Homo sapiens: one gene and its partners. The protein of the gene in region 2 interacts with the protein of the main gene of each other region in a biochemical or structural test. Each region holds a gene or a part of one and is shown on either strand. Other genes may lie near its edges.

Region 1 (6,271 bases), on a different chromosome or scaffold from region 2:
CTTGGGTTCTAAAATCCCTACTCTGTCCACATTCTTCTCACTACTTTCAGAATCTTCCTAAGCTTGTACAGCGGACCCTTGAATAACATGGGTTGAAACTGCATGGGTCCATTTATATGCAGATTTTCTTCTGCCTCTGCCACCCCTGAGACAGTGAGACTAACTCCCCCTCTTCCTCTTCCTCTTTAGCCTACTCAACATGAAGACAAAGACAATGAAAATCTTGATGATCCACTTCTACTTAATGAATAGTAAGTATCCTCTCTCCTTTTTGTAATGCTGTTAATGTTTTCTCTAGTTTTTTTATTATAAGCATACAGTACATATTACATATGAAAAATATGTATTAATCAACTGTTCATGGTATCAGTAAGGCTTCCCGTCAATAGCAGACTACTGGTAAAGTGTGAGGGGAGATAAAAGTATACATGAGTTTTGTCTACATAGCGGTTGGCACCCCTAACTCCATGACTCCACGAGTCAACTGTACAATATGCAATGTCTAGGCTTTTTAGTGTAGTTGCTGGGAGGAAGAGGGAAAAGTATGCCTACTCCAGCTTCCCAGAAGCAAAATCTGTGCCAGATCATTCGTTTTCAATGTCTATATTTTTTCCATTTTCCTTTAATTTTTTAAAGTTCTTAAAGTCTTGCCAATAACAAAACTGAACAGATGAGTGTGTAATGAAAATAACTATACTCTAACAGTGCTTCTCTAAGTGGCCTGTGGATATGCTCTCCCAGAACTGAAAATTCTATGAAAATTTTTTAGATGTGACATCAATTCTATTATAATCTTACAAATACCCTTTGCCAGTTAAATAGACAAACTCGCTTTTTAAAATTATGACATTTCATAAGACTGTGGTCTCAAGCTATAGTTCCCCAAAGTACCTGAGGTGAGGCACTAAAACTAATTTCCTCCTCAAAGAAGGTGAAACTAAGTGTGAGAGATACTGCTCAGTATGTGGGGTGACCATTGCCTCAGTTTTCCTAGGACACTCCCAACATATAATTTTGTCCTGGAATAATTATTGACAGGGTCTTCTTTTATACTCACAATATCTCATTTTGCATGATAAGCTAATATATATGTTCATATCACCTATGATAAAGAATACGAAACCAGGAGGAAGACACCCAGCAAGCATAGACACCACCCCAGCCATCTCTTCTTCTCTTCAGGACACCAAGGTGTATATTTAACATTCATTAATGGAAGCATTAAGTAGCTCATATGGAAGGTCCATCTTCTTTTTCTCAGCAGCAACTTATTATTAGATATTTTGTGCTTATACTGTGAAATATAGCACCTGTAATGATAATGGGTAACTAAATGATATTGACTAAATAGTTGTAAACATATGTTCTAAGATTATACAAGAATATCTAGGATGCTAAAATTCTGCCAGTTGTACACTTAAAGAAAACATAGCCATCAATTTGCAATTACATGTGTAACTTCCTAGTCTTTACAGTGAAACTCTTCTATGAACAAAGTTTGCCAACTTCTCGGCACCTAAATCATTTAACTGTGATTTAATAGAAGTTCCATAAGTATGAACCTTTCTTTTTCAGTGTCCTCAGACACAAGTTCTCAACAGCCAGCTAGGCATCTCCAAACACACGTACTCAGCTGGCATCAACTCCCATCATGTTGGAACAATGCAGCATCCTTCCCCCAACCAAACCGGGTCTTCAGACTTCCCATTTCCTTCTATGGCATGACATTTTTCTCTAGTTCCCCACCAATGAAACTTCAATGCCAAGTTAGTCAAGGTTATGTGAAATATAGCCCATATTTTATTTTTTGTCCAATCTTCAACATCTCTCTTCAGGTTCTAGAAGAACAAGAACCCATCCTTTTTGGCAAGCATTCTCTATGCTCATTCCCCTATTCCTCCATCTACAGAATCCTACCTCAACTCAATTCATCCAAGAAGTTCTTCCTGGTGACTTCCAACCAGATGTGTTTTCTCCACCTTTAAAACTTCATAATATTTTCAGGTGCGATACGGCAGTTATGTTTCATATTCTTATATTATAGCTATTAGGTTGAACAACATGAAATTGTTGAACCTGTAAAAATGGCAATCCCATATGGTTCAATCTAATATTTCTCTCGGTTTTAGGGCTCATAAATAAAGAGCAGTCTCCATGAAAACAGGGGCTGAGTTAGGTCTCTCTTTTGGATCCCCTGAGAAGCCTAGGACATTGGAAGTGCTTAAGAAGTGTTTGTCAAAATAGACTCATAAATCAACACATGTCTTAGGCATATATGTTTGCAAAGTCAATCATCTGAAGCAATTAGTCTAACTACATATGAAATCGCTAATTGTTTTATGAATCAGCACAAATGGCAGTTTAGAACCTGAAGGTTTTGGCAATATAAAATGTTTTGATTCAAGGAGCTGTTTTAAAATTATTTATTTGTGAAGGAAACATCCTTGGATTTAGAGGTTGGCAGATACAGTGAAAATCTTTTTAGTTGACTGAAATAGAAAAAAAAAAAATCAAAACCCTTTTTAGCACATGCACTTCCCTTATAAAACCAAATTGCCTGAAAGCAGAGGCCAGCAGTTTGTGCACAACGAGTATGTGCCTCAACACCATCAGCAGGAGATGCAATGCAGAATGACAGGAACAATTTGCATTTCTGTAGCTTCTTTGTATACCCAAATTCTGAGAGCATTTTACAAAGCCATAAATATCGTTACCCACAAGAGACAGGGAAAGGATGCAGATACAAGGACGGACTTTGTGTACTCTGACCCAGGAGCCCCCCTGCGCGGAGCAGTGATACCCACACAGCTGTAAACCTGAGTGCAATTAATTGATGCTGGTTAAGAAAAGGGGAACATACATCTGCAGGGTCCTTCACAGTCACAGGGACCATTCCCAGAAAGCGTTTCGTCTTTCTTGCATTCACAAAGAATAGCGTCAACAAATGTTGAGTTGTATTTGCGAGTTTCCCCAACAAAGGACGGGTCTCTAGTTCTAGGTGATGGTGGTATTATCAGTCACCTCACCAGTCCCCCTAATTCCTACAAAAATCACCAATCCGAATGACATGTGTGTAGGGCTTTCATGGGGCTAGGAGCAGTGGGCTGCCAGAAGCTCTGCTGGGGCCAGGAGAGAAGAGAGCATCGTTCACACTTATTACGTTGCAGGGGCCTATTTCCAGGGACAATGTTACTGAACCTTGGAGAAATTCATGCAAAGGTATACTGTTGTTGTGCTCCAGGCTTCCTTCCCCATCAGCTGCAGAACTGTGCGATTCTGGTCCTGGCCAAGGAGTGCCCAAAGCTAGTTGCCAATGGGCCCCGGAGCCCACACCTCCTCTAGCGCAGCATAGCAGCAGCCCTCACTAACCTCCAGGGGTCACAATTGGGTTACAAATTCCTCACAGTGCAGGGACTGAGCAGCCTGATTGGGAACAATTTATTCGAATCCTTCTTCGTTAAGATTCAAATGGAATAAGTAAGGTAGAAATTGAACAGACACAGAAATTGTGCCTTGCTGCTCCTGTAGTCAGTAGACATTTATTCACTAAGCCTAGCTCGTGTGTTCTTTCTCTCTCTCTTTCTCACTCGCAGTTGTTCTTCCAATCTTTCCTGCTTGCTGTTTTAATGCATAATTAAGAAGGTCAGAATTAATGAAGCAGTGTGGAGTAAAGTTCAAGGAATCCCCAGGCACTATTTATTCTATTAGATCTCAGGCATGAATGTCAGATTGGCAGCGCAGGCGGCATGAGCAATGGAGCTGGCGGCATCCCAAGAACGGCCGCCAAGGGAGACTCACCTGCACAGTCCAGTCATTCCTCAGCTCCTTCCCTGCGAAAATCACACGCAACTGGTCAGCCGGAACCCCCTGTCGCTTAGCAACCACCTCCTTGAGCTGGAAGATGCTGGTGTCAGAATCGACCTCCACTGGGAAACCATGGCTGGAGTTGAACCTGACAAACACTGACCAAGGAAATTGGAAGGGAGAAGAGAAAGTGAGCATCACTCGAAGCCCTTAAATGGTGATAGCAACATTTCTCAACCGATTTACCCCTCGCAGCCCTTCAGTGAATGGTATATATTTTCTTTCACTTACAACAAAAAACTTAATGCTATAGAGCAATATTTGGGAAAAACAGAGTTAGTTACCCACGAGATTTCCCTTTCATATATTCGTCAGTGACCTGCAAACCAAAATTGCATTCTCCCTTTGACATCCATCCTGGGAAACAGAGAGACTTGAGCAGGACACTTGCTTGATTGGAATTGAAAGAGTCCCATGAGTTTATTGAAAAGACTCAGCTCTGACAGCATGTACACACTCACACTCCCTCCACAGTGACCCTCTTAATAAAAATAGGAGGCGATGTGTTAGCACTCAAGGTATAGCAATGGAAAAAAATCTAAGCTGCTCTATAGACCAGAGTGAAGACCCACTCGGGGCTATGGCTCAGAGCCCTAGACTTGGGTGGTCCTGGCCAAAATGCTCCACTGGGTCTATGAAGACAATTATTTGCCCTCTTTTTGGCAGGGAGGGGGTGGAGACACTAGTGACACCATTTGTCTTATTGAAGCCACTGTTCCCCGTGAGACCCAGGCTGCATCCTCTAGTCTGTCTGTCTGCATGCCGTCTTCTCACTGCACCTGCTGTCCCACCTCTTCAGCGTCTCTCACTGCCCTTTACTTTCCATTCTTTCTCTCACTGCTTGAAGTCACGCTCTCATCACATCTTTTCTAGAGTCTCATAATAGCCCCCAACTGGAGTCTTGATCCACGCCATCACCTCCAAAAGGCCCTACATAGTTCTGCAAAATGAGCCTTATTAATACAGAGCTATGTCACACCACTCAAATCCTTTAAGTCTCACACTGTCGGCTGGTGAGGAAAGACTCCAAGATCCCTTTCATCTAGCACAAACCTACATTCCAGCATTTTCTTCATTAATCTCCATGTGTACTCTTTTAAACTAAATGCTCCCAGAAAAAAAAAAATCACAAAAAACTGCTGCACACAACTTCTTGCTTTTATTCATGACCTCCCTCCTTCTCCTCTTCCTATTGAAATCCTGCCTACCTCCATGGCCCACTTCAAATGTGACCTCCCCCAAGAAGCTTCTGGCTATCAGCTACTGCAAAAGCCTGATCTTCCTTATTCAGGGCACCAGTGGCATTTACTATATATGTCTTTTAATATTCACCACATTCCTCATGGAAGCAGGATAGCACACGGGTTAAAAGAACATCCTGAAGCATTAGGAAGACCTATGAAAAATCCCCACAGACTCCTTTAATTGGCTTAGGATGCTAGGGGTCAATCTATTAACCTCCCTCTTTAGGTCTCAGTTCCCTTATCTTGAAAACATAAATAAACCACAGACCATATTATTCGGTTCATTAAATAATATTTATAGTATTTAAAACTATCGTCTTGTAACATTTAAAAATAATGGACATTTAGCTGTTTTTGATATACATTTTGCCTTCTTTAAAAGATAACAAACTCCTCAAGGGCAAGTGTTATTGTTTATTTACTGCTGTGTTTCCTTTAAATGTAGTACTATAGCTAATTATTTCTCAATACCAATGTGAGATGACCCACCTCATCATAATTATAATAATCATTACAATGCCAATAATAATCAGGCACTTACTATGTGCCAGACATTGTGCTCTCATATGGTTTTTCTAAGCCTCCCAGTGATCTGGTCAGGTCCCTATTATTATCCTTATTTTACAGAATAATAAACGAAGGCACAGGGAATGGGACCCACTTTTCTAAGGACATTAATTACTTTCTAATGGAACTGGGTTTCAAATTTATTTCAATCTAACTCTAAAGCTCATTCCATTTCTACTAAAATAGGCTTCCTGAAACCATCTCAGAAGAAAAGTCCAGGCCAGGCACAATGGCTCAAGCCTGTAATCCTAACACTTTGGGAGGCCAAGGGGCAAGGATGACTTGAGCCCAGAAGTTCAAGACCAGCCTGGGCAACAAAGTGAGACCCCATCTCTACAAAAAATTTTTTTAAACAATCAGCAGGGCGTGGTGGCGTGCACTTGCAGTCCCAGCTACTCTGGAGGCTGAGGTGGGATGACTGTGTAAGCCCAGGAATTAGAGGTTTCAGTGAGCTATGGTTGTGCCATTGCACTCAGTCACCCTGGGTGACAGAGACCTTGTCTAAAAAAAAAAAAAAAAAAAAAAAAAAAAAAAAAAAAAAGTCCACATTTCTATCCCTCATGATTAAAAAGATAACAATAAAAAGGCTTTATGAC
Region 2 (5,666 bases):
AATTTGTGTTGATGTAAACACAATAAATGCATGTATGCTCATCAATAGCAAAGAGAAGGAATTAAACTTTTCACATCATCTTGTCACATTTTTAAAAATCATTTGACACGAATTTTCTGTGTATTCTAATACCCTCATACTCACCCTGTCACAAGTCAGACACTGCACTGAACTAATGATTGTTCCATCAAATATGTCTGAAATAACACTTCTGTATTTCTTGTGCTGTTTTTTTCTCTTTGGAGATGCAGACTGAGCTAGGATTGAAAAACATTAAAAAAAAATCAAAGCAGCTCCTTTAACATTTTTCTCTGGAATCTTTTTTTGTCTTGTCAATCTTACTTGTATATGATCTCTAGAATCCTTAAACTGTAAAAATTACTGTGTTGAAAATTTTCAAAATACTCTTCAAAAGAGCATAAGTATTAAAAAAATAAAAGAAACTAAGCAGACAAGGCTTAAGATATTTGTTGTTTTTTTTTGTTTTTTTGTTTTGAGGTGGAGTCTCGCACTGTTGCCCACACTGGAGTGCAGTGGTGCGATCTCGGCTCACTGCCAAGTTCTGCCTCCCGGGTTCATGCCATTCTCCTACCTTAGCCTCCCAAGTAGCTGGGACTACAGGCGCCCACCACCACGCCCAGCTATTTTTTTGTATTTTTAGTAGAGACAGGGTTTCACCATGTTAGCCAGGATAGTCTCGATCTCCTGACCTCATGATCCACCCACTTCAGCCTCCCAAAGTACTGAGATTACAGGCGTGAGCCACCGCACCCAGCCTGTTTTTTTTTTTAAAGTATAAATGATCCTTGGCCACCATAAATGTACATATGAGAAAATGAACAAAATTCTAAATTAGCACAAAACCACAAATGCTTCATCACTGGGATGTTTACTTAAATGTTTTACAAGTCAAAAGAAGAGGGGAAGAGGTTAGAAAGTGAGGGAAAGATGATGAAAGTCATCATCAAGCTAAAGATGAAATAGAAGGGGTTCGGTCTCCCTATCCTGACTTGAGAGCAATTCTGTTTTCACTTATTTGTTTTTGTCTCCAGGTAAGGCTTTATTTGAAGAAAAGATTCTATTATTTAAAGTTTTTAAGAGTTCTTTATATATTTCTGGATACATGTCCTTTGCTAGCTATATGATTTATAAATACATCCAACCTTATCTTTCCATTCTCTGAATGTCCTTTGTCAACAAAAATCTTTAATTTTTTTCTTTAATGGATCATGCTTTTAATGTCTTTAAGAACTCTTTGTCTAACCCAAGGCCATGAAGACTTTCTCCTATGTTTTCTTCTAAGAAAACATAATACTGGAACTCCCATATATACCTGGAAGGAATACTAAATGGTAGACACTCTGGTAAAAAGTCTGGCAGTTTAATACAACTATAAGCATTAAACAAACATAAAACCCAGTAACCCCACTTCTAGGTATTTGTCCTAGACAAATGAAAAAATGTTCTTACAAAAACCTATACATAAATTTTAGAGCAACATTATTCATAATTGCCAAAAATTGGAAACAATTCAAAAGTCCACCAGTAGGTAAATAAACAGTGGTATACCCATAAAAAATGAGATATTAGGCCGGGCATGGTGGCTCATGCCTGTAATTCTAACACTTTGGGAGGCAGAGGTGGGGAGATCACAAGGTCAGGAGTTCGAGACCAGCATGGCCCATCTCTACTAAAAATACAAAAAATTAGCCAGGCATGGTGGCGTGCACCTGTAGTCCCAGCTACTCGGGAGGCTGAGGCAGGAGAACTGCTTGAACCTGGCAGGCAGAGGTTGCAGTGGGCCAAGATTGCACCACTGTACTCCAGCCTGGGCGACAGTGAGACTCCATCTCAAAACAAAACAAAAAAAAAGAAACATTACTTGGTAGTAAAAGGAACAAACTATTCAGACACGCAGTAACATATCTGAATTTCAAATGCATTATCCTGAGAGGCAAACCTGTTTCAAAAGACTACATATGAAAAGATTTAAAAAAATCAAAAGACTACATACTATATGATTTCATTTATATGACATTCTAGGAAAAGGCAAAACAATAAGAAAAGAGGATCAAGGGTGCCAGAACATAGGAATAGAGAAATGATCTGATTACAAAGTAGTACTATGCAGGAATTCTTTGGGGTGTTAGAGCTGTTCTGTATTCTGTTTGTGGTGGTGGTAACAAGAATCTATGCTGCAAGTGTTAAAATTCATAAAGCTCTATACAAGAAAAAGTGAATTCAACTGTATGTAAAATTTTAAAAGCAGAGTACCAACACACAAAATTTTTAATCATGTCTATGTAAAATTATGCTATCAATTTTAAAAGATCAAATCATATTTCATAATTAACACTTTAAATTATCAAGTACCAAAACCATCATTTTAAACTAAGACCCAAAGCAAAAGAGACTGAATAAGAGAAACGTTTTACCTTTTTTGTGTGGTGGTGCCAATCCTGGCCACAAATTGCCTGATTTAGGAGGGCTTGCCGATAAACGTGGATTAACACCTTCATTTGATGGAAGGATCTGTGGTGTAGACAGGTCATTCGAATGGACATCAGTGATATATTCTGTAAGATTTAAAATTTGCATTATTACCTTAAATAGTAAAATTATTCTAACTGTCCAATAATGTTAAAGGTTTCTTAATTTGATATTTTGAACACAATCATATTAACAAATGTCAAGTTAAATACTTAACAAAGTGCTTACTAAGCAAAATAACAGTAATCTTCTACCCAGAAATCCAACTAATTTTTGTTTACTTGTTTTTTTGAGACAGAGTCTCCCTCTGTCCCCCAGGCTGCAGTGCAGAGGTGCGATCTCAGCTCACTGCAACCTCCGCATCCTGGATTCAAGCGATTCTTCTGCCTCAGCCTCCCAAGTAGCTGAGATTACAGGCATGTGCCACCAGGCCCACCTCATTTTTGTATTTTTAGTAGAGATGGGGTTTCACCATTTTGGCCAGGCTGGTCTCAAAGTCCTGGCCTCAAGTGATCCACCCACTTTGGCCTCCCAAAGTGTTGGGATTATAGGCATGAACCACCGTGCCCAATCCCAACTAATGTTTATAACACACGACTATTACAGGCAGTTTAGGAAGTGAGCAGTGGAAATACAAAGCCAAAGAGGATCTTGTTTGTCCAAATATAGCATTAAAAAAAAAAAAAGAGGCTAGGCTGGGTGGCTAACGCCTACAATCCCAACACTGGGAGGCCAAGGTGGGAAGACTGCTTGAGCCCAGGAGTTCAAGACCAACTGCGCAACATCATGAGACCCCCATCTCTACAAAAAAATCTAAAAATTAGCTGGGCATGGTGGTGTACACCTGTAGTGCTGGCTACTCAAGAGGCTGAGGTGGGAGGATCACTTGAGCCCAGGAGGTTGAGGCTGTGGTGAGATGTGATCATGCCACTGCACTCCAGCCTGGGTGACAGAATGAGACCCTGTTTCAGGAAAAAAAAAAAAAAAGATATTCAGGACAGGTTTTTAGAAGTTCTAAAACCATGTGAAAGAAAAATCGATTATTCTCCCAAACTAACATAATAATCAAAATCAAGAAATGTAGGTATAAAGTAATCATAAGTTATTTTATCTTACTATAATAAAAAATACACCACTTCATCAGGAAAGAATCTTTTTTTAGAATTAAATTATAAGATGAATCAAGAAAATATAAGAGCTACCTTGATTGTTTGCTTTGGATTCCTAGTGCCTAACATATTCCAGGGCAAGGGAATGTGCTCAGTAACTATTTGAGTGAAGAAAAGAGAATTGTTCGTAAGAGATCTGGAAAGGGGATGTACTCAGAAATTTTTCCAGATAATGCAAAATCATTTTTCACACAGGCATTTCTCAATATTTCAATCATGACTAAATCAGACTGCATAATATTGGGAGTGAAAAAACAACTCACTCTAGGACTTTCTGAAGGGAATAAAGTTAATGAGATTTAGATGGGGAGTTGGCAATTTTTTCCTCTAACGGACCAGAGATGAAGTGTTTTAGGTTTGTGTGCCTTACAGACTTCGCCAGATTTTTTTCATCAAGCCCTTAAAACACCTAAAAGCTCAGACTCCTGATTTAGGTCATCCCCTTGTTACTATGTGTAAGAACAAACCTGTTACAGAGCAATCAAAGATGAGTATGTCCCTAATCAGGCTTAACTGGGCTTTTGACAAGAAAAGCCTGGACAGCAGTCAAAGCTAAGTCTTTCAATACTGATACCTGACATATTTATTCACTAACAACTTCTACACAAGATCAGTATAATTAAGGAGCCTAACACTCCTAGTCTTCCCGATTAGAAAGCATCTGTGCACTTTACCCAAGTGAACCACAAGTCTTCCTATAGTTAATAATATTTTCAAGAAGAAATTTTGGATTCATTCAAATACCTAAATAAATTGCTTAGTTACTCTCACTCTTCAGTAATTACAGAAAATAAACTTTTTTACATTACATGTCTGCCACTTATTTTAAGATCACATAATTTGAACCTCTAATGGCCCAATTTTGTGTGCTTTGGAAAACTACATACCACATTTTAAGCCAAGATAAGTTAACTCTTGAAGAGATAAATTACAAAGCAATTCAACTTTCATTTGGCCACATGCTCTTTCTCAAAGGAACACTGACTAGTATCATGGCATAATCTATCACAGCAGGGCTCACTATAGTTAATTCAACTTCTACACTAAAACACATCTGATGTGACTCCAATGACAACAATCTAAATCTACTAGTGTATATAATTAGAAAATTGCAATTTGGGTTATTTGCTTTTTTCCAGGATCGCAACATAATTTGCTTAAAATAAAAGAGAAAATTCTGGGGAGCCCAATTTTTTAGATTACTGCATGACTACACAAAAGACATCTGATGAAATGTTTACTTCAAAAGGAGGATTAATTTCTTATATAATTAAATGACCCAAAAAATTCCTTTTATCCTCGGGTTCTATAATTTTATGACTAATACTCACATGCAAATACTGCTAAACTATAATTCTAATTAGAAATACCCAAAGTAACAATTATTTAAACACCCATGTCTACAAATGAAATACTATCATTTTCATGAACAAACTACTAAATTGTCACCTGAAGCTCTGCTGTGTATTTGCACTTTGACAGTTTCCTGGTTGTTTAAGTCGACTGTTTCAGATATAGAGTCTCTATCTTTATCAAATTCGCCTTCAGAATTTACTTTATTAATCTTATTGCACATCTTCTCTTTTTGCCAATCCTTTGACATTTCTGAATTGTTTTCATCATCCTGAATTAACATTGTTGTTTCATTATTATCTTCAGAAAAGCATCTAGAGCCATTTTCATTTTCTGCTCTATCACTGTTGCTACAAGATTCACAAGACTGAAAATCTACATCCGACTGGCTCTTGTCTTCTTCCATTGTCTCCTCAGTGGTTATGGTTTGCGGATCTTCTTCTACTTCCATGACTTGCTCTTTCAATTCTTCATGAAGCAAATCCATTAAACATCGAAGGAATTCTTGAGCATCCTAATATATCAGCAACATAATGTTAACCACTTCATTACATGTGTATATAGAAACGTAAGGGAAAATATACAAAATGTCATTACAAACTTATATATGAAGGTACAGCACTATATTGAGCAAATACCAGTTTGGAGAGCATA
Region 3 (6,271 bases), on a different chromosome or scaffold from region 2:
TTAGATGTTCACAAGTGCCTATTGAAATGTGTCAAGATTTTTCTCTGGCTTCAGAGGTCAGTTCTATTTGTTTTTAGCACAGTGATTTAAAAACATGGGAAAATTTTAGTTTGGAGACTATCATATTGATTTAGAGAAGAGACTATTTTAAGGGAGAGAGAAGTCATATTTAAATTTGTCGTGGCTCAGTCATTTAAGACCATGTGCCTATTAATCAGTGGCATCTTCATTTACCTCTGCCGCAGTTTGAGTAGTGACCCTATTTCAGCATTCTCCGTTTGAGACTGTGTGTGAGCTACTTGATGAGCATTTGTATGTAAGTCATAGCTATTTTGGGAAGGCTTGGAACTCCAGTGGCTGTGGCTGGCTGGAGTACTCCGATTCCTGGCCACCTGCAGAGTGATGACATTTACTGTTCTTCCCAGTGATTTGCCCTATACGGAAAGCTGATAAGCTTGGAATGCTTGATAATGTTTGCCCCTTTTATTTTTGCTAATAAAATGCTTCAAGTTACCAGGATAGGTTGAAGGAACTTACAGGAAAAGTACCTTTTGATCTTACAGGAAAGATTTTAATAACTTCTTCCTCATCTTGGTAAGTTTCATGTTAGAATGGATTCTTTTATTTTGAACTCTCTGAGGCATTCTACCTTTCCCTTAAAGGATATTTCATTGTTCTAGTTGAGGAGAGCTATCCTTCCCTGACACTCAGAAGCTATTTAAAGCCTAGACTGCTTCCCTTCCCTTATTGGTCAGTTGTACACAGGACAGACAAAACCCTTTATGGCCTCCCAAGAATTTTAGTGCGAGAAATATGTAGTACTCTTGAAATATGCTATCAGTATGGACTCGAATCTGAGAGTAGACACTTTATGATTTCACTAAATCCTCTAGACTGCAAACTGGTATTCGAATATCTAAAGAGGTTACATAGTGACAGATTCCTGTATTTTAATCAATTCTTGACTTCGATAGCAGCAAAATTTACTGTTATTACAGGAGAAACAACTTGAAGTCAGTTTGGTTCTTATAAACCTGTCATTCTTGGCAGCTGTACTGAGGGTTCACATCACACATTCTTTATGTCAGCTGAAGCCTTATAAAAACCTGCCAGTTTCAGTGAAAATTTAATGCCCTTTTTGCTTTCTCTTGATTTATTGACCTTTCGTTTCCTTTTGTCTCATTAACTGATTTTTAAAACATCAGTAAGTCAGTGATTGGTTCCACAACTCTCATGCCCCTCTGCCCCCAAATGCAAACAGTATTTTTTTTTTTTTTTGAGACGGAGTCTCGCTCTGTTGCCCAGGCTGAAGTGCAGTGGCGCGATCTCTGCTCACTGCAAGCTCCGCCCCCCGGGTTCATGCCATTCTCCAGCCTCAGCCTCCTGAGTAGCTGGGACTACAGGTGCCCACCACCACGCCCGGCTGATGTTTCTGTATTTTTAGTAGAGACGGGGTTTCACAGTGTTCGCCAGGATGGTCTCGATCTCCTGACCTCATGATCCGCCCGCCTCGGTCTGCAAACAGTATTTTTAAGACTTACTGGCAAATAGCATCTTACCAGGCGAGATCTCTCCATGTGTTCTGTTTCATCAAAGAAATTAAATCAATAGTAAAATGAAGCAAGTACTTAACAAGGAAAATAATGCTGGTAATAGTAATAGCTAATGCTAATTGAGCATGCACTATGTGCCAGACTCGGTGCTCAGAACTTAACATAGCATTCTCTCAGTACTTACACAACTCCATGAAGTTTCTATGAGAAGGCTTATACTTGTTAAGTAATTCGTCCAAGGTCACCCAGTGAGGATATGGTACAGTTGGAATTGTATCTAGGCAGTTCTGACCCCAAGAGCCCAAGGCGCCCCTGGTCCTATCTCATAGTTGATGGGCCCATTGCCCTGGATCACAGACTTTCCACTACTCTTATAATGCCTTTTCTAGAACTCTCCTAATGTTTTAAACTTCCAGTCCTCCCTACAGTCTTTCTAAATAGATAATCTTCTTTTCTACTTGACTGAGCTCGCTGATGTCTAAAAAGAGCTCCCTGCCTTCTGTTTTGTCCCCCTCTCCCTACGCCATCTCATCTCTTTTCTCTTATTTCAGTGGAAAAGGTTCCCTTCCTTTTTCCCCCTTTCATTTCTTAGAGATAAACCTAGATTAATGGTTTTTACTAGGGAGAGATTTTGTAATCTAGGAAGCATTTGGCAATGTCTGGAGACTTTGATTGTGACTCTGGAGGGAGGATGCTACTGGAATGTAGTGCGTAGAAGCCGGGAATGCTGCTAAACATCCTGCAGTGTACAGGAGTAAGCCCCTCTAAACAGAGTTATGTGTAAATTGTATAAAATAGTGCTGAGCTTGACAAACTCTGATCTAGATGATGTCTCTCTTCTCTTTCTATTATGTCCCTTCTCCTTAGTCCTAGTCTAACCCCCAGACACCTTCACTGTCTTCTCCCTTGCTACTCACATTATGGTCCACAGACCAGCAGCATTCACATCCCCTAGGATTTAGACATGCAGAAAGTTGAGTGTGCTAGAGCCAGCTTGCTCTGCCTCTCCAGCTGATTTTGTACATCTCTTTCCAGCTCTGTGTTCAATGACCTCGTGTTGATAACTGTGCCAAGGTGGGAATATTTATACCAAGGAAACAAGCATACACTGCCAATCAGCATACCACTGCCTGTACCCCCACTCTAGACCTATTCAATCAGTTTCTGCCTTTTGACAAGATTCTTGGGTGATTCATTTGCATATTACATTTTGAATTTGCATTTTCCATTTTACCGTGCACTTGTCCTCTATCTTGAAACCAAATAACAACAACAAAAGTGTCTATTGCCCAGTCCAGCTGTTGTCTCCACCTTCCTCCTCTTGTTTGCTTTTGGAACAAAGTTTCTAACCCCACCTGTTTCATTTCTAAAACATTTTTCCAGTGACAATGTATTCAGACTCAATATACAAAACTTGGAAAAGACAGACTTGAGCAAGACTAACTCTTAGCTGACAGGAGATTGAGGAAGGTTGGTTCCCAGATTCTGCTACAGAGCTTAAGGTGGCAATAACAGCTTCTGCAAAAGCCAAATAATGAGATGGCCGTGTGGACCAGTCTGGGCTCCAGCAAATGGCTGATTGTTCAGAGGCCTGCAGAGGGACTGACTAGGCAGCAGCAGGTTAGGTTGAAAGGCAGTGAGTGGTTTTATGTAATCAGAATCTGCTCAGCAGCCTACTTTGCCAAGGCAGGATCTCTCCCTCTGTCACCCAGACTGGGGTGCAGCGATGTGATTATAGCTCACTTTGGCCTTGACCTCCTAGGCTCAAGCGATCCTCCCACCTCAGCCTCCTGAGTAGCTGGGACCACAGGCGTGCATCACCGCACTTGGCTGTTTTTTTAATTTTTTATAGAGACGAGGTCTTGCTATGTTGCCCAGGCTGGTCTTGAACTCCTGGGCTCAAGCAGTCCTCCTGCCTTGGCCTCCCAAAGTGTTGGGATTACAGGCATGAGCCACCACACCTGGCCCCCTCATACTTTTATTATTTTATGCTTTTATGATCCCTCATTACCACTTTTTTGCTGTTACTTTTTTCTTGTTTTGTTTTTTGAGACGGAGTTTCGCTCTTGTTGCCCAGGGTGGAGTGCATTGGCACGATCTTGGCTCACTGCATCCTCCGCCTCCTGGGTTCAAGTGATTCTCCTGCCTCAGCCTCCCGAGTGGCTGGGATTACAGGCATGCACCACCATGCCCAGCTAATTTTGTATTTTTAGTAGAGACAGGGTTTCTCCATGTTTGTCAGGTTGGTCTTGAACTCCTGACCCCAGGTGATCTGCCCACCTCAGCCTCCCAAAGTGCTGGGATTACAGGCGTGAACACCTGGCTCCAAATCTACATTTCTAATCCTGAGTTGCAAATGACTTCTATACTCTGTTTCCCAGTGCTTTTTGAACAGGTCTGCTTGAATATCAACCTCCTTGGCTATAAACGTTTGCTTCATACTTATTTTCCCAGGGTTGTTATACTAGGCATGGGAATGTACACTTGTATTACTCGTGTCTGCCATATGCTATGTACCACCCTAAGCACTTTTCCATACATTTTTATTTACAAAAACCCAGCAAGGTGTGAACTATTACCCTATTACTGATGAGGAAACTGAGATGTCTTGTTTGTTTTTTGAGATAGGGTTTCACTCTGTCACCCAAGCTGGAGTGTGGTGACACCGTCAAGGCTCACTGCAGCCTTGACCACCCAGACCCAAGCAATCCTCAGACACTTGAGTAGCTGGGACCACAGGTATGCACCACCACACCTGGCTACTTTTGTTTTATTTTATTTTTTGAGACGGACCGCAGTCTGTTGCCCAGGATGGAGTACAGTGGCGTGAGATCAGCTCACTGTAACCCCCGCCTTCCGGGTTCTATTGATTCTTCTGCCTCTGCCTCCCAAGTAGCTGGGATTACAGGCACATGCCACCACGCCTAATTTTTGTATTTTTAGTAGAGACGGGGTTTCACCATGTTGGCCAGGCTGGTCTTGAACACCTGACCTCCGGTGATCCGTCTGCCTTGGCCTCCCAAAGTGCTGGGATTATAGGCGTGAGCCACCGAACCCAGCCTGTGGTTAATTTTAAAAGTTTTTTTAGCAATGGGGTCTCTCTGTGTTGCCCAGGCTGGTCTCAAACTTATGAACCAAGTCATCCTGCCTCAGCCTCCAAAAGTGCTGGGATTACAGGCATGAGCCACCGTGCCTGACCTCAGATGTTAGTATGCCTTATAAGGGCCTCATATGAGATTTATTTTATTTATTCCTTTTCTTTCTTTTGTCTTTTTTTTTTTTTTTTGAGACATGGTCTTACTCTGTCACCTAGGCTGGAGTAGTGCAGTGGCTCTATCATGGCTCACTGCAGCCTCAACCTCCTGGGCCCAAGCAATTCTCCTACCTCAGCCTACAGAGTAGCTGGAACTACAGACATGTGCCACCATGCCTAGCTAATATTTTTAGTTTTTGTAGAGATGGGGGGTCTCTTTATGTTGCCCAGGCTGGTTTTGAACTCCCGCGCTCCAGTGATCCTCCCGCCTGAGCCTCCCAAAGTTTTGGGATTACAGGCGTGAACCATGGTACCTATCTCTTTTTTTCTTTATTCGTATGAGATTTTAAACTGAAGTCTGTTTGCTTCTATCTTACAGATGAGAAATGCAGCTTATGACCATGATTGAATTATAAGTAGCAGAGCTGTGACTTCAAGCCATTCTGACTTGAAGCATAACATTTCTCCGACTTTAGTACAAGCCTTTCTAAAACCAAAGTTTCTGACTTACCACTTGACTATGTAGCACTTTAATAATTTTAATAACTTTTCATTGAACCCTCATAGGCACTCTATGAAATAAAATTTAGTATGAGCAGGAAGTAGAATTTGCAAAGTGACACAGCAAGTAAGTGATAAAACCAAAACTATAACACAGGATATCAGTATTTTTACTGTAAACTCTAGAGGAGTTTAGTTGAACAGGCAAGTCCCAGTATTTTTCATTTCTATTGCATTTCTTCATTTTGCTAACAATTTATTTGCAGTACTTCCTTTGATAGTCATACAGGGCTGTCAAAGCTTTTGGTGTACTTCATTTTCCATTCTGGAAACTGATGCTGAGGAAGATTGAGATTTGCCAGGAGGCTGATGTGTGCTGGAGTCTGGGCTGCATGGCACTATTTCCAGCGTCTAGGCTTTCTACGTAAAACAGGGGTCAAAATATCAGACACACAAAACCAAACTAAAGATCTGCCTCAGTAAGTACCAGCTGCATGCTACATGATGGCTGGTAGGCACTTTAACCCTAAGAAGATTTTCTAAACAACATTTTCTTTTTCAATCTTCTTGCCCAAGTTAGTACTTTCTTGTGTCCCCTCCCTCCCTCCCTTCCTCCCTTTCTTCCTCCCTCCCTTCCTCCCTCCCTCCCTCCCCCCTTCCTTCTTTCCTTTTGTGTGGGGATGTGTATACAGGTTTCCTTATTCATTTGTTTTTTCATAGAGTTGGGGTCTAGCTATGTTGCTCAGGCTGGAGTGCAGTGGCTATTCACAGGCATGATCGTGGTGTACTACTGTTTGAAAATCCTGGGCACAAGTGATCATTCTGCCTCAGCCTGCTGCAGAGCTGGAACTACAGGTGTGTGCCACTGCACCCAGGTGATTTTTTTTTTTTCAATTGAGGCAAAATTTATATAACATAAAATTATTTTAAAGTGGGGCTGGGTGAGGTGGCTCACTGAGGTCAG
Region 4 (6,271 bases), on a different chromosome or scaffold from region 2:
TAAGTAATCACTCGGTTAGAACTTAATGCAAGTTTTATAAATCACCTTGAAGTTTGAGTCTAAGGGGTACATTAGAGATTAAGAATTGTGAGTTGGACCAGTGGTGTTAAGAGCGGACTCCCCCATCCCCCAACACACACACAATTTTGCCCACTTTGGCATTTTAACTTTTAAGGAAATCACTTAAGGAATTGAAGATTTAGAGTAAGAGTTTTGGTTAGTAGACTGGCTTTGCTGTTAAATCCTTCCACTCTTCTGGCAGAGAGATTAATTTCCCTAATCAGTATCAGCAGAAGATAAACTTGTTTATATTCCTGCTGTTTTGTAGATCCCTTCTCCTGGTCCTTCTTCAATAGAATATTAAATTCTTAGTTTGTATACAGCAGAGAAGGTCACTTATAAAATTCAAAAAGTGAGCAAACAGGTCTAGATTAATTCCAAGAGTTACCAGGAATTAATTGCAGTTTATTTTGCGGAGGTGATTACAGTGCTTTTGATGAAATGATAAAGCTGCTATATTGTAAACCTAAGGCAGATTACCTCTGTGTAGTGCCAGTTTTCTATCCTTATTATATATTGAATCATACTTAATACAATGCATTAAATTATGTACCACTTTTTTTATATACAGTATCGAACTCATTGTTTTGCCATTCATCCGTTCAGAATATCAGAAGCAGTTTTGAAACGAATTAATAAATTAGCTACTGTTCATCAGCCCCAATTCTAAATAAGCTCTTAGATTTTCCTCAGCCCATCTGTTACTTTCAAAATTTTCTCATTTGAAAACTTGGCAACCTTGGATTGGATGGATTCATATTTCTTAGTATAGAAGTTCTTGATATAACTGAAAAATTAAGTTAAACACTTAATAAGTGGTGGTTACTCAGCACTTTTAGATGCTGTTTATAATAGATGACCTTTTCTAACTAATTTACAGTTTTTTGAAAGATAACTGAGAGGTTGAGGGACGGAGATTTTCTTCAAGCAATTTTTTTTTTCATTTTAAATGAGCTCCCAATGTCGGAGTTTGGAAAACAAATTTGTCTTTTTAAAAGAAGGTCTAGGAAACTCAAAACCTGAAGAATTGGAAGAAATCAGAATAGAAAATGGGTATGGTTATGATACTGTAGATTTAACGCAGGACATTTCATGTTGTTCCTAGTTATAGGGGCTGAACTTATTTAATAGCACGTGCATTTTGATTTTTAGATTTTTAAGGGAATGTCAAGAGAGTAATGATTCTGTTTCAGGCTTCAGGCCAGACTCCTTCAGAGTTTTCCAAAACAAATAATTACTGAATCATTAAAGTAAAATTTCTGAGAATAGATATTCCTTAATTTCCTTCATTAACTTTGGCCATTAAAAGTCAAGAAGCTCTCTCATTTATTAGCAAACTTTTCTCCTTATGATTCTATTTTGATTGTCCTTTTGTTTGAGGAAGCAGCATATGGTGGTTAAGAGCATAGGATCTAGAGGCAGATACCTCTGAGTTAAGGGTCCCAGCCCTTCACTTGTGAGCTTGAGCAAGTTACTGAATGCCTCTGAGCCTCTTTCCTCCTTTTGAAATGATGATAAGAATAGCAGCCATCTGAGCAGTTATTGTAAAGGTTAAATGAGATAATGCTTGTGAAGCACTTAGCCCATTGCAGGAGTCTTGATGACACTGTGTACTTGAAAATAGATGTTACCTGTTAAAATTCTTGTTTAAACTTCCACAACTCTTAAAACTCTTTTTTGCTAGTCCTTCCAGCTGTTTCCTTTAGTTTCTTTTCTGTGTCTTCATGCATCTTTTCTATCTCCTGAAAGTGAAAAGACTAACATTGGATCCAGAGCTTGAAAAGCGTTTTTTTCCTGTTACAATGGGCAAAAGAGTACATCCTTGGGTTATATTGGCACCTAGTATCAGTTATTTTTCTTGAGCATCTGATCTGCTCTCTACTCTAGTGGAGGCCTCCTGCTTCACAATTGCTCACCCCTGTGTTTTCTCCCCAAATAGAATACTGAGTTTACTCTGGACTCTAGAGTCAAACATACACAGTATTCTAGTCTTACTGTTCATTTAAGCAAGATATGTGCAAGACACTGCATTCTTAGTACTGGCAGTAAGTTAAAACATTTTTCGTCTTGATGCCAAAGTTTAGACAATTTTATAAAAATTAACCTTTGTAAAAGATAATGAGTTGATAAAATATTCTCAGTAAAGCAGCTACGTGGTAGAAAAACTGTCCTTTGCTTATGAGTTTCTCCAGAGTTAAGACCATTGGGTTCCATCTGAAGGCAAGACTTCAAGCTTGTCTTACTGGTCTGTTTTGTGGCTCAATTTGTATGAAGTCTATGCACTCTTCCACACGTGTGTATTTACTGAACTATCGAGTTATTTTAGACTGAGAAAGTATTGGAGTTCATTCCTACGGTCCACTGCAGAGCACCTTGTGCAGTTTGGAGAATGTCAACTTTTCTACCTGTTAACTTCCATTGTCTTTACTTTTAACGCCATTGTCTGTGACTCTAATGGTGTCACGGCTCAGGGTTTAGATTTTGTGGTTACATTCTATTCTTGTATGTCAAGAGTGGTGTATAGAAAGCTGAGGGGGATTATTTAGTCTCTTGACTGATTTTTTTTTTTTTTCTGAAGAACTCAGTTTATTATGTTTGGTGGTGAAATAAAAATTGATGTGCATGGATGTTAAAGATTTGGGTTAAATTGTGTGTTCATAGATGCCTTCTCTTAGTATATAATTTTTTAAATTTAGATACTTAAAATACTGTATCCCTTTATCTAAGATTAACATAAGTCTGTTTCTTAACCAGGATAAAAAAATCTAAATTTAAATGTGATGTTGGATGAGTTTCCAATCAAGAAATTGATTTTTTAAACTTTGTGACTAGTTATCCAGTGGGTGGATTTTACCCAGTGTGTGTATGTGTTTTCTGCTTAACTCTGGAAGGTTAGAAAGAGAATTTGAAACTAAGACAAGCCAAGCTTCTTGTTGCTCAGTATTTTTGGTAAAAATATGGTCAGATTGTTTAAATTAACTATAGGCTTTGGAATTTTAAAAATAATTATATCTCTTGGTCTCTTGACACATCAAGAATTAACTGTTTTGTATATGCGTTGAGTATTAATGTTCATGTTTTCTGCAGTAGAAATTTATAAACCCTTATTTATTTGCCAGACATGATCCCTTTAGAGAAATCTAGTATCTAAAACCTGAATTTTTAAAACAAAATTTAAAATTTTTGTTTCATAAAAACAAAAATGTGATTACCTCATGGCTTTTTTCTTATAGCTTTTGATTGTTTTTTAAAATCGTAGTTCAAAAACATTAACCTAAAATTTACCATCTTAACCATTTCTAAGTACTGTTCAGTAGTGTTAAGTATATTCACATTGTGCCACTAACTTCCAGAACTTTTTCATCTTGCAAAGCTGAAATCTTACCCATTAAACAACTCCCAATTTCCCCCTCTCCTCAGCCTCTGGCAACCACCATTTTACTTTCTGTTTCTGCAAATTTAACTACTCTAGATGCCTCATATAAATAGAATTATAGGGTTTTAATATTTTTGTGATGGGCTTATTTCACTTTGTGTAATGTCCTCAAGGTTCATCCATGTTGTAGCATGTGTCAGAATTTCCTTCCTTTTTGAGTCTGAGCAATATTCCATTATATGTTCCATATTTTGTTTCTCCATTCATCCAGCAACGGACACTTGGGTTGCTTCCACATCTTGGTTATTGTGCTGCTCTGAACATGAGTCTGCAAATCTCTCTTTGAAGCTTTCACTTTTTTTGGATACATATCCAGAAGAGGGATGCTGGATCATATGGTAACCCTTTTTAATTTTCAAGGAACCACCATATTGTTTTCTATAGCAGTTGCACCAGTTTACATTCCCACCAACAGTGCACAAGGGTTCCTATTTCTCCACATCCTTCTAAACACTTGTTTTCTTTCTTTCCTTCCTTCTCTTCTCTTTCTTTCTTAGCCATCTAATGTGGCAAAGTGGTAGCCATCTAATATGTTGAAGTGATTGTTTTTAAGGGCTTGTTTGTGGATAATTAACCAGCTGAAAGCTAACTACAGTTTGCCAGTGGAAGCTTTAACTGAAAGGAGAGTAAGTACCTCTAAAAGGAGAATTCAATTTTTCTAGTGACTTAGATTTGTTATGCCAGTACTTTTTCACAGAAACACTTTTTGGGTAAAATAGTGTACACCTGTTCTATTGTTGATAAAGCCCAATTTAATTAGGAAATTTGTTCTCTAAGATTTAAAACAATAATTGAAATAATGTATTTTTATTAAAAACTGTTCCCAAGATGTTAGCTTTTAGCTGTTCTGGTGATCTCAACTGTTATTTATGAGTGTTTCTTTATTTTAAAATTTCACCTTAACCGGTTACAGTTTTAACCATAAAGATTATTTCAACATATGATTTTGAAAATTTATTATCTTGTAAATGGGAAAATGTAGTGATGGAACATAGTTTACTGTATGTAGTTCTTCACTTGTTTGAAAAGTCACAATATATTTAGGCAAATTAATTTAAAAGTGTCTAGTATTTAATATTGCAATTTTCACTCATTAAGGACAGGTCCCCCGTGTTTCCCCCTTTTTTTTTTCCAAGTAGTTTGGGAGGATTTGTTTTTCCAGCTGAAAAATACTATGGTTAAAAATAAGGTTTAAAGGCGAAAGTTGAAGTCTTTGAGGGTTGGGATACGTTTCTGTTCTTAAGAGTCTTGTAAATTCAGATGCTAAGCAAATTTCTTTAAAATGATTTCTACCCTCCCCCTTTCCATTATAAAACTGGATATGTTTCAGTGGACCAAATCCCAAGTAGGCTGAATTTGAAATTTGTGGGCTGGGCGCGGTGGCTCATGCTTGTAATCCCAGTACTTTGGGATGCCGAGGTGGGTGGATCACCTGAGGTCAGGAGTTCGAGACCAGCCTGGCCAACATGGTGAAACCCCATCTCTACTAAAAATACCAAAATTAGCCAGGCGTGGTGGCGGGTGCCTGTAATCCCAGCTACTTAGGAGGCTGAGGCAGGAGAATTGCTTGAACCTGGGAGGCGGAGGTTGCGGTGAGCCAAGATCGCCCCATTGCACTCCAGCCTGGGTGACAGAGCAAGACTGTGTTTCAAAAAAATTAAAAAAGAAATCTGTGGTGTGAATACTGGTACGTGGTGTACACAGTGAGCTCTTAATAAGTATTTGAATTAACAAATGAGACAATGATTGAATAATTGGATGAACAAAGAGAATGCAGGTTTTTAAAAGGTTTCTTTAGAAATATTGTCGGCCCGGCACGGTGGCTCCTGCCTGTAATCCCACCATTTTGGGAGGCCGGGGCAGGTGAATCACCTGAGGTCAGGAGTTCAAGACAAGCCTGACCAACTTGGAGAAACCCCGTCTCTACTAAAAATACAAAAAAAAAAAAAAAAAAATAGCAGGATGTGGTGGCACATGCCTGTAATCCCAGCTACTCGGAGGCTGAGGCAGGAGAATCGCTTGAACCTGGGAAGCAGAGGTTGCAGTGAGCCAAGATCGCGCCACTGCACTCCAGCCTGATGACAGTGTGAGATGCTGTCTCCAAAAAAAAAAAAAAAAAATTAAAAAGAATGTTTTAATTCTTTAGTTCCCTGTCTGAGATTCACTGATTGGTAAGAAGAAAGTTAAAGAATCTCCTTTGACTTTTTTTGATATAGATATTTAAATTCTATTACTTTATAGTAAGGTTGGGGTTTATTTTCTTTGCTTTATAATAGAAGAGCATTGATTATTCTCTTTGCTTTATAATAGAATACCATTTAAATAGGAGTTCCCTGAGTGTGTTTACAATCATTTGATCTGGCTAAACTATTTTAATGTTAATGAAATTTTAAAATTTTGGAGGAAAAAATTTAAAAACTACACAGGTGCACAAAGAAATAAAAATCACCTGCTTTTTCACTATGTAGAGACCATTGTCTACTATTTCTCAATTCTGTGTTACATCTGTATGTTAATAACTGTAGGATTAGGGACTGAGTACTGTTTTTAACCTGCTTTTAAAAAATTTACATCTACATTTTTTCCCATCTAAATAGTGAGGAAGAGTATCAGAATTTTGTAGGCTTGTGGTGATGGTTAAATTAGATAATATTAATGTTGGGTACTTAACATAATATATGGCTCTTAATACTCTCCAGATTTCAGATATAGTCTGTTTTACCATTACTGCCTTTTTATCAAACCTATTCTCAAAAAAGTGAGAAAAGTGCTGAG
Region 5 (6,271 bases), on a different chromosome or scaffold from region 2:
TGCAGATAATGACTGTCTCATGGTAACTCGGGTAACTAACTTCCATACCTAGGCAAGTATAAAGATTTATTTCATTCTGTGTAAGTACTACAGTTTCTCTTTATTTGTAAGCAGTGAATGATTTTTATCTAAAAACTGATTTTCTAGAGATGAAAATAAGTTACACAAGTGTGAGATGAAGAGAAACATACTTTATGATGTATTTAGTTCTAGACTTTATATTGAGAAGTAAATCAAAATTAATACGAGAGTAATACCTTTTTAAAAAGCAAGAAGAAGGTAGCACTGATTTGTATAAGGAATAAAGCAGTCTCAAAATGATATTTGTTGATCTGTGTTTCAATTTCAACAAGAGATCAGAAAAACACGAACAAAATTTAGAGTTTAGGAACTATAGGAAAGAGATAAATGAACTAGAATTGTATCGCTTAGGATGAATTAAAAACAATTTTCAGATACATGGTGGTTTCTTCTGATGAGACAAAAAGATAATTTGCTTAAGGTACATATGAGTATTTTAGGAACATATTTAAGGAATGGTAGTTAATGAGTTACAAAGAAAATTATGGGTTATAAAATACTCTCTTTGGAAAAAAAGTTTTTGAAACAGAGTCTCGCTGTGTCGCCCAGGCTAGAGTACAGTGCGTGGTCTCGGCTCACCGCAACCACCTCCAGGGTTCAAGTGATCCTCCCACCTCAGCCTCCGCAGTAGCTGGGCCTGCAGGCACATGCCACCACGCCCAGCTAATTTTTTATTTTTAGTAGAGACAGGGTTTCCCCATGTTACCCGGGTTGGTCTCGAACTCCTGGCCTCAAGTGATCTGCCTACCTTGGCCTCCCAGAGGGCCGGGATTACAGGTGTGAACCACCTGCAAAATTTCTGGCCTGGAAATTTTTAAAGAAATGGGCCTATTATGAGTAAGTAAAACATAACCACAAATCATCCAAAGCACTGCTTCGTTTCCACCATTTTTATTAAATGTTATTCATCTGCCAATCATTTTCAGTAATTTTTATGTGTGATTATGTTAAGTGGTAATGTGTAGTTAACTTTTGCAGTTTAGCAAAACATTGCATGCCATTTTTGTATAAACCCTAATAACTGTAGTAGGTAACTTTACAGAGTAAGTAATTTGTGTGTGAAGTCATTTAAAATCTCTGTGACATTTTCATTTCAATAATTGCCAAAGAATCTGATCAGTGAAGTTTTAGACAAGAGACATTGATTTCAGTTTTTAGAGCTTTCTGTCCATTCCGACTTTTACTTAGAAATCTTTGAGGCTTAATTTTATTTGATCCCTTATGTTCGTGCAACTTTGAAACTAAAAGAAAATAACCTTATACTCACAAATCCCTTAATAATGAAAAGGAACACTATTACTCAACATGAATTTCAAAATATTTAGTGTATACTTAAAGAAATTTTTATATTACTATTACTTTTAAAATTAGTTTCAGTAGTGCCAGGGTGTTTACGACCAGAGTAGGGTATATACTACATCATTTATAGGAAATGAAACTAAAAGGAAAAACTTCTTCAGTCTTGGTAAATTGGTGAAAACAAGGACAGAGATAGTGACCTTAAGGCATGTTTCACATCTTAGATGCTTAAAAATCTAGGAAAGCAACTTTTCTTAATTTAAGCCTTTTTCGTAAGTTTTTAAATGACTTCTGTTAGTGAGTCCAGGGTTAATGTACCCTAATAGTCCAGGAAGGTCCAGAGCTAGTCAATGATTTCGTTTATCTGTTTTGTGAAATTAAGGCTTTTTTTCCTAAATTATACCATTTTCCTGTTAGCACATATAAGGCATTAAATGACCTTTTTGCAAAATGGTTTTGTGACAGTTAACAATTTTGCTTCTACGTAAGTGTAACAAGATAAAATCAGTTTGTCAGGCCATGACCTGTAATATTACATTTAAAAACACTATGTGCCAGGTACTGTTATAAATGCATATTGACTTATTTACTCATCACCATATTACCACAATTCTGGGAATCGGTGTTATTCACATTTGACAAAATAGGAATCATAGGCTCAAAAAGGTTTTCACATAGTGGTATAGCTGGGATTTGAACCCAAGTAGTTTAGGTCTTTGGTTTGTGCCCTTAAAGCACTGTACCACATTGCCTCTGATTTTATTTAAAAAAATTTTTTCTAGAGACAGAGTCTCGCTTCATCACCCAGGCTGGAGTGTAGTGGCATAGTCATAGCTCACTGTAGCTTCAAACTCCTTGGCTCAAGCAATTTTCCTGCCTCAGCCTCTGAAATAGCTGGAACTACAGGTGTGCGCCACCACACCCAGCTAATTTTTAAAGTTTTTGTGGAGACGGGATCTTACTGTGTTGCCTAGACTGGTTTGAAACTCCTGACCTCAAATGATCCTCTGACTTCAGCCTCGCAAGTATTAATAGCTGGGATTACAGGTGTGAACCCCTATGCCCAGCCTCTGTCTCTTATTTTAAAGATTCATTTTTTAAAAAGTAGATTCACTTTAAAAAGAAAAGAACCTATTTTTCTTTTTAAAGGAAGTCTATTTTATATTTAGTAGCAGAATTCTACCATTTGCCTCTTGTGACTGTTCAGTTTAGATATGATAGAACATGTAGGAAATCTTAACACCTTGCTTCTGGATATTAAAACATGCTTAAAGATTGATAGGTGAATAATTGAATGTACAGAGCAAATGTCATTTTGATCCACAAGTACATTCAGACAAAAAAATTTGAGGTCATTTACTATTGAGCTTTTGAATTTTAATTGTCTATCAATAATCATAAGCTCTTATTAGAGATGATATGGCCCCTTCACATATAGTTTTACAGAAATAACCCATGAAGCATATAGTAAGATCTTGTAGGCTATTTTGTTTCGGTACTTGGTCCATATTTTAAAAGTATGGTATTGGTTTACTATAAGCCACAAATACATACGGCTTTCTTCTTGGACTTAAATCCATATGAACCACTCAGCACAGAAAATGCAAATATGAATGCATTATTATGTTCACCAACTGATTTTTTCCCTAGAGATAACTCTTAAAGAATTTTTGAAGTGAAAGAACATTTAAATTAAGATAGTGGAAGATACAATGATAATAAAACAGTCAATTTTGCTATCTTAGTCTTGAATTTATCTTATGATGTGAGTTTAGAGTGATTCTTCTTTTTTTCACTGAAAATCACTTCATTAATAAGTCATGATTATTGACAAAAGTAAATTGAAACCATTGGGCATATTGGTAGGGAAATAAGGGGAAGATAGAGAACAACTGATAAAGGTTGATTATGTGCATTACGAGATTTGATCCTCAAAAGAAGGACCAAAATATATATATTTATATGACTTATAGATGAGGAATCTGAGAGAAATTAATTTGCTTGCTCATAGTTTACTACCAGCGGACATTTATTAAATGCTTAGTCTGTCGCAGCCACTATTTTAAATGCTTTACACTTACATAGCCTTTAAAGTACATGCTCTTATTACACTTCATTTTATCTTTGATGATTTCAGAGCTGGTTTAAATACCTGGTTTATAAAGATTTAAAGTACTAGATACTATCTAATACTAAGAATAGATCCTTAGTATTAAAAATGGTTTTATGCTGTCACTACTCGAATGTAATTCAAACAATATTTCATTAAACCATGGGAATTTCTCTTTTTTCTTAGTCCTTGTATAGAATTTTTCAACAATTACTAAATACTTTTTTTCTTCCCTGAGTAATGTCAGTCTAGCTTGTTTCTTTTAATTTCCTCACTTACCACTGTAATTCACATTCTGTGTCTCATATTCATTCCTCTGAAGCCACTTCGCCAGACTCGTTCTCCCATTTATCCTTTAAACAGGGGAATGTAGATCCTTTAGATTTTATCACCCAGTTTACACAAAAGTCACTATTCAAGAAATCTAGCATAAGCCTAGTAAGTAGCCTCAGTTTTGGATACAGATTAAAATTATTTGAGGGAAGGGTCAAAAATGGCTCCTTACAAAGAAGGAAATAAGTTCCAATTATAATATAAAACAGAAAACCCCTGTAGGATTAACCTGCATTTGATTATGTCTAGACTGCCTTTACTACTTCCATCACTAAGATTCTACATGGTTTCCTTATAGCTCTCCAAAAAGAAAAGAGTAATGATGCCTTTTTTTCCTCCAAGGAATGGAGAACTAAGAATGCTAACTGTCCCTTCCATTCTCCCTTTAGTTTTGAGAAGACCCAGATATTAGCGTGGTAATTCCCCACCATAAGAGAAAATCATTTAGCAGAAGTACCAGTAGCAAGGACTTCTTTGTGAAGGAAGTCAAAGATCTCACAAAGAAGTTCAAGGGTGGCTCTGAGGCCAGGGTATTCTAAGTTTAGAGCCAGTTAAATCAAGACCTGAGAACATTTAGAGACAAAGTTACTTAACTGAAAAGAGCATCAAGTTCCTTGTTCCAGGTAGAAAACACCTGGTAATCTGGATTGATTTCTGTTATTTACCCATATGTTTTTACAGCTTAACAAAGTTTAACAGGTTAGTCAAGAGATTTGCCTTTGATAAAAAGATGGGAAATTTATATTCATACATTTGAATGGATTTCAAGCTGAAGAACTTTTTAATTCTCAGGAGAGATGTAGCTAAGTATTTATATGTACCACATAGTTGTGGCTATGGTTTACAATAACTTATTACTCATTTACTATGTTAAGAGCATTTTAAAAGTTCTCTAGATACAGGTTCCATATATAATGTAATATATTTATTCCAAATATATTACATATATGAAATACATGGTAGTATTCTCATTTTACCAGTACAGAAACTGGGATAGTTAAATGTATATGGTCATAACACTTAGTCAGTGGTAGAGCAGGAGGTCTAACTTAAAGCTTGCATTTTAAATTCTAAGTGTACTGCCTGCCTATGTGTGATAGAGCCATACCCAGATTATGGAAGCAACTTTTTGAAAGACAAATACTTGAAAGTATTAAAATCAAGAAATGACAGCTTTGTAATACTTGTTAAACACATTTTCATTTGTTATTAATATCAAGAGCCTCTAGAATTTTGTGAGTCTTCTTGTTTTAGCCTTGTAGTCTCAGCAGTCTCATTTCTAATTAACATATCTCTGTTTTGATACAGATAGTGTCTCCCATTTCCTGCAAATTATTTGCTTTTTCCTGCTTTTGGGGCCTTTATGCCCCATTTCTGTTGTTTCAGATACTTCTTAAAAATTACTGACTTTCATTTCAAAACCTAGTTCAAAGTCAGTCTCTAAAACCACCTCTAATCTCATCCAAATTTGTGGCCCCTCCATTCTTTGCTTTTAAAATATATATGTATATATAAAACAGCTTTATTGTGATGCTATTCACATACCTTACAATTTGCCCACTTAAAGTGGACAGTTCACTGGGTTTTAGTATACTCGAAAGAGTTGTGCAGCCATGACCATAATCAATTTTGGAATCCAAAAAGGAACCTCATACCCATTAATAGTCACCTCCCATTTCTCTCCCAAACTCCTCTGTTCTAGGCAGCTACTAATCTATTTTCTGTCTTTATATATTTGCCTATTCTGGATATTTTATATAAATGGAATCGTATAGTATGTGCGATTTTTGCATCTTGCTTCTTTTACTTAGCATACATGTTTTCTAGGTTCATGCATGTTATAGCATATATCAATGTTTATTTTTACTGCTGAATGATACAGTCATGAGTCACTTAATGACAAGGATAACTTCTGAGAAATGTATGGTTAGGCAATTTTGTCGTTGTGTGAACATCTTAAGGGGGTACTTACACAAATCTAGATGGGATTGCCTACTACATACCTAGGATGTATTGCCTATTGCTCCTAGGCAAAAAAAACCTGTACAACATGTTACTGTAGTGCATACTGTAGTCAATTCTAATACAATGGTAAGTATATATATATGTGTGTGTGTATAAATATATATATGTGTGTGTGTGTATATATATATATCTAAACATAGAAAAGGTAGAGTAAAAATACAATATTATGATCTTTTTTGTTTTTAGAGACAGGGTCTGGCTCTGTCACCCAGACTGAAATGCAGTAGCCCAATATTGGCTCACATTGCCCTTGATCTCCTGGGCTCAAGCAATTCCACTGCCTCATCCTCCCAATTAGCTAGGACTACAGGCAAGCACCACTGTGTCTATTTTTTATTTTTATTTTTTTGTAGAAATGAGGATCTTGCTGTGTTGCCCAGGCTGGTCTTGAACTCCTGGCCTCAAGCACTCCTCCCACCTTAG

The links.
Region 1: the proteins of USP33 (region 2) and PRKN form a complex in vitro, tested with the Homo sapiens proteins (one study listed by BioGRID).
Region 3: of the proteins of USP33 (region 2) and USP28, one has a biochemical effect on the other in vitro, tested with the Homo sapiens proteins (one large-scale study listed by BioGRID).
Region 4: the proteins of USP33 (region 2) and HIF1A interact in a biophysical measurement, tested with the Homo sapiens proteins (one large-scale study listed by IntAct).
Region 5: of the proteins of USP33 (region 2) and USP15, one has a biochemical effect on the other in vitro, tested with the Homo sapiens proteins (one large-scale study listed by BioGRID).

What each region holds. Positions count from the first base shown.
Region 1 is NC_000006.12:162,439,512-162,445,782, forward strand, and holds part of PRKN (E3 ubiquitin-protein ligase parkin), read right to left. Parts: intron 3,963-6,271; coding exon 3,799-3,962; intron 1-3,798. UniProt on the Homo sapiens protein: Functions within a multiprotein E3 ubiquitin ligase complex, catalyzing the covalent attachment of ubiquitin moieties onto substrate proteins. Substrates include SYT11 and VDAC1.
Region 2 is NC_000001.11:77,723,187-77,728,852, forward strand, and holds part of USP33 (ubiquitin carboxyl-terminal hydrolase 33), read right to left. Parts: intron 5,527-5,666; coding exon 5,109-5,526; intron 2,577-5,108; coding exon 2,436-2,576; intron 258-2,435; coding exon 145-257; intron 1-144. UniProt on the Homo sapiens protein: Deubiquitinating enzyme involved in various processes such as centrosome duplication, cellular migration and beta-2 adrenergic receptor/ADRB2 recycling.
Region 3 is NC_000011.10:113,867,494-113,873,764, reverse strand, and holds part of USP28 (ubiquitin carboxyl-terminal hydrolase 28), read left to right. Parts: intron 1-6,271. UniProt on the Homo sapiens protein: Deubiquitinase involved in DNA damage response checkpoint and MYC proto-oncogene stability. Involved in DNA damage induced apoptosis by specifically deubiquitinating proteins of the DNA damage pathway such as CLSPN.
Region 4 is NC_000014.9:61,696,842-61,703,112, forward strand, and holds part of HIF1A (hypoxia-inducible factor 1-alpha), read left to right. Parts: intron 1-870; exon of another isoform or gene 871-1,009; coding exon of another isoform or gene 1,010-1,113; intron 1,114-6,271.
Region 5 is NC_000012.12:62,263,404-62,269,674, forward strand, and holds part of USP15 (ubiquitin carboxyl-terminal hydrolase 15), read left to right. Parts: intron 1-6,271. UniProt on the Homo sapiens protein: Hydrolase that removes conjugated ubiquitin from target proteins and regulates various pathways such as the TGF-beta receptor signaling, NF-kappa-B and RNF41/NRDP1-PRKN pathways.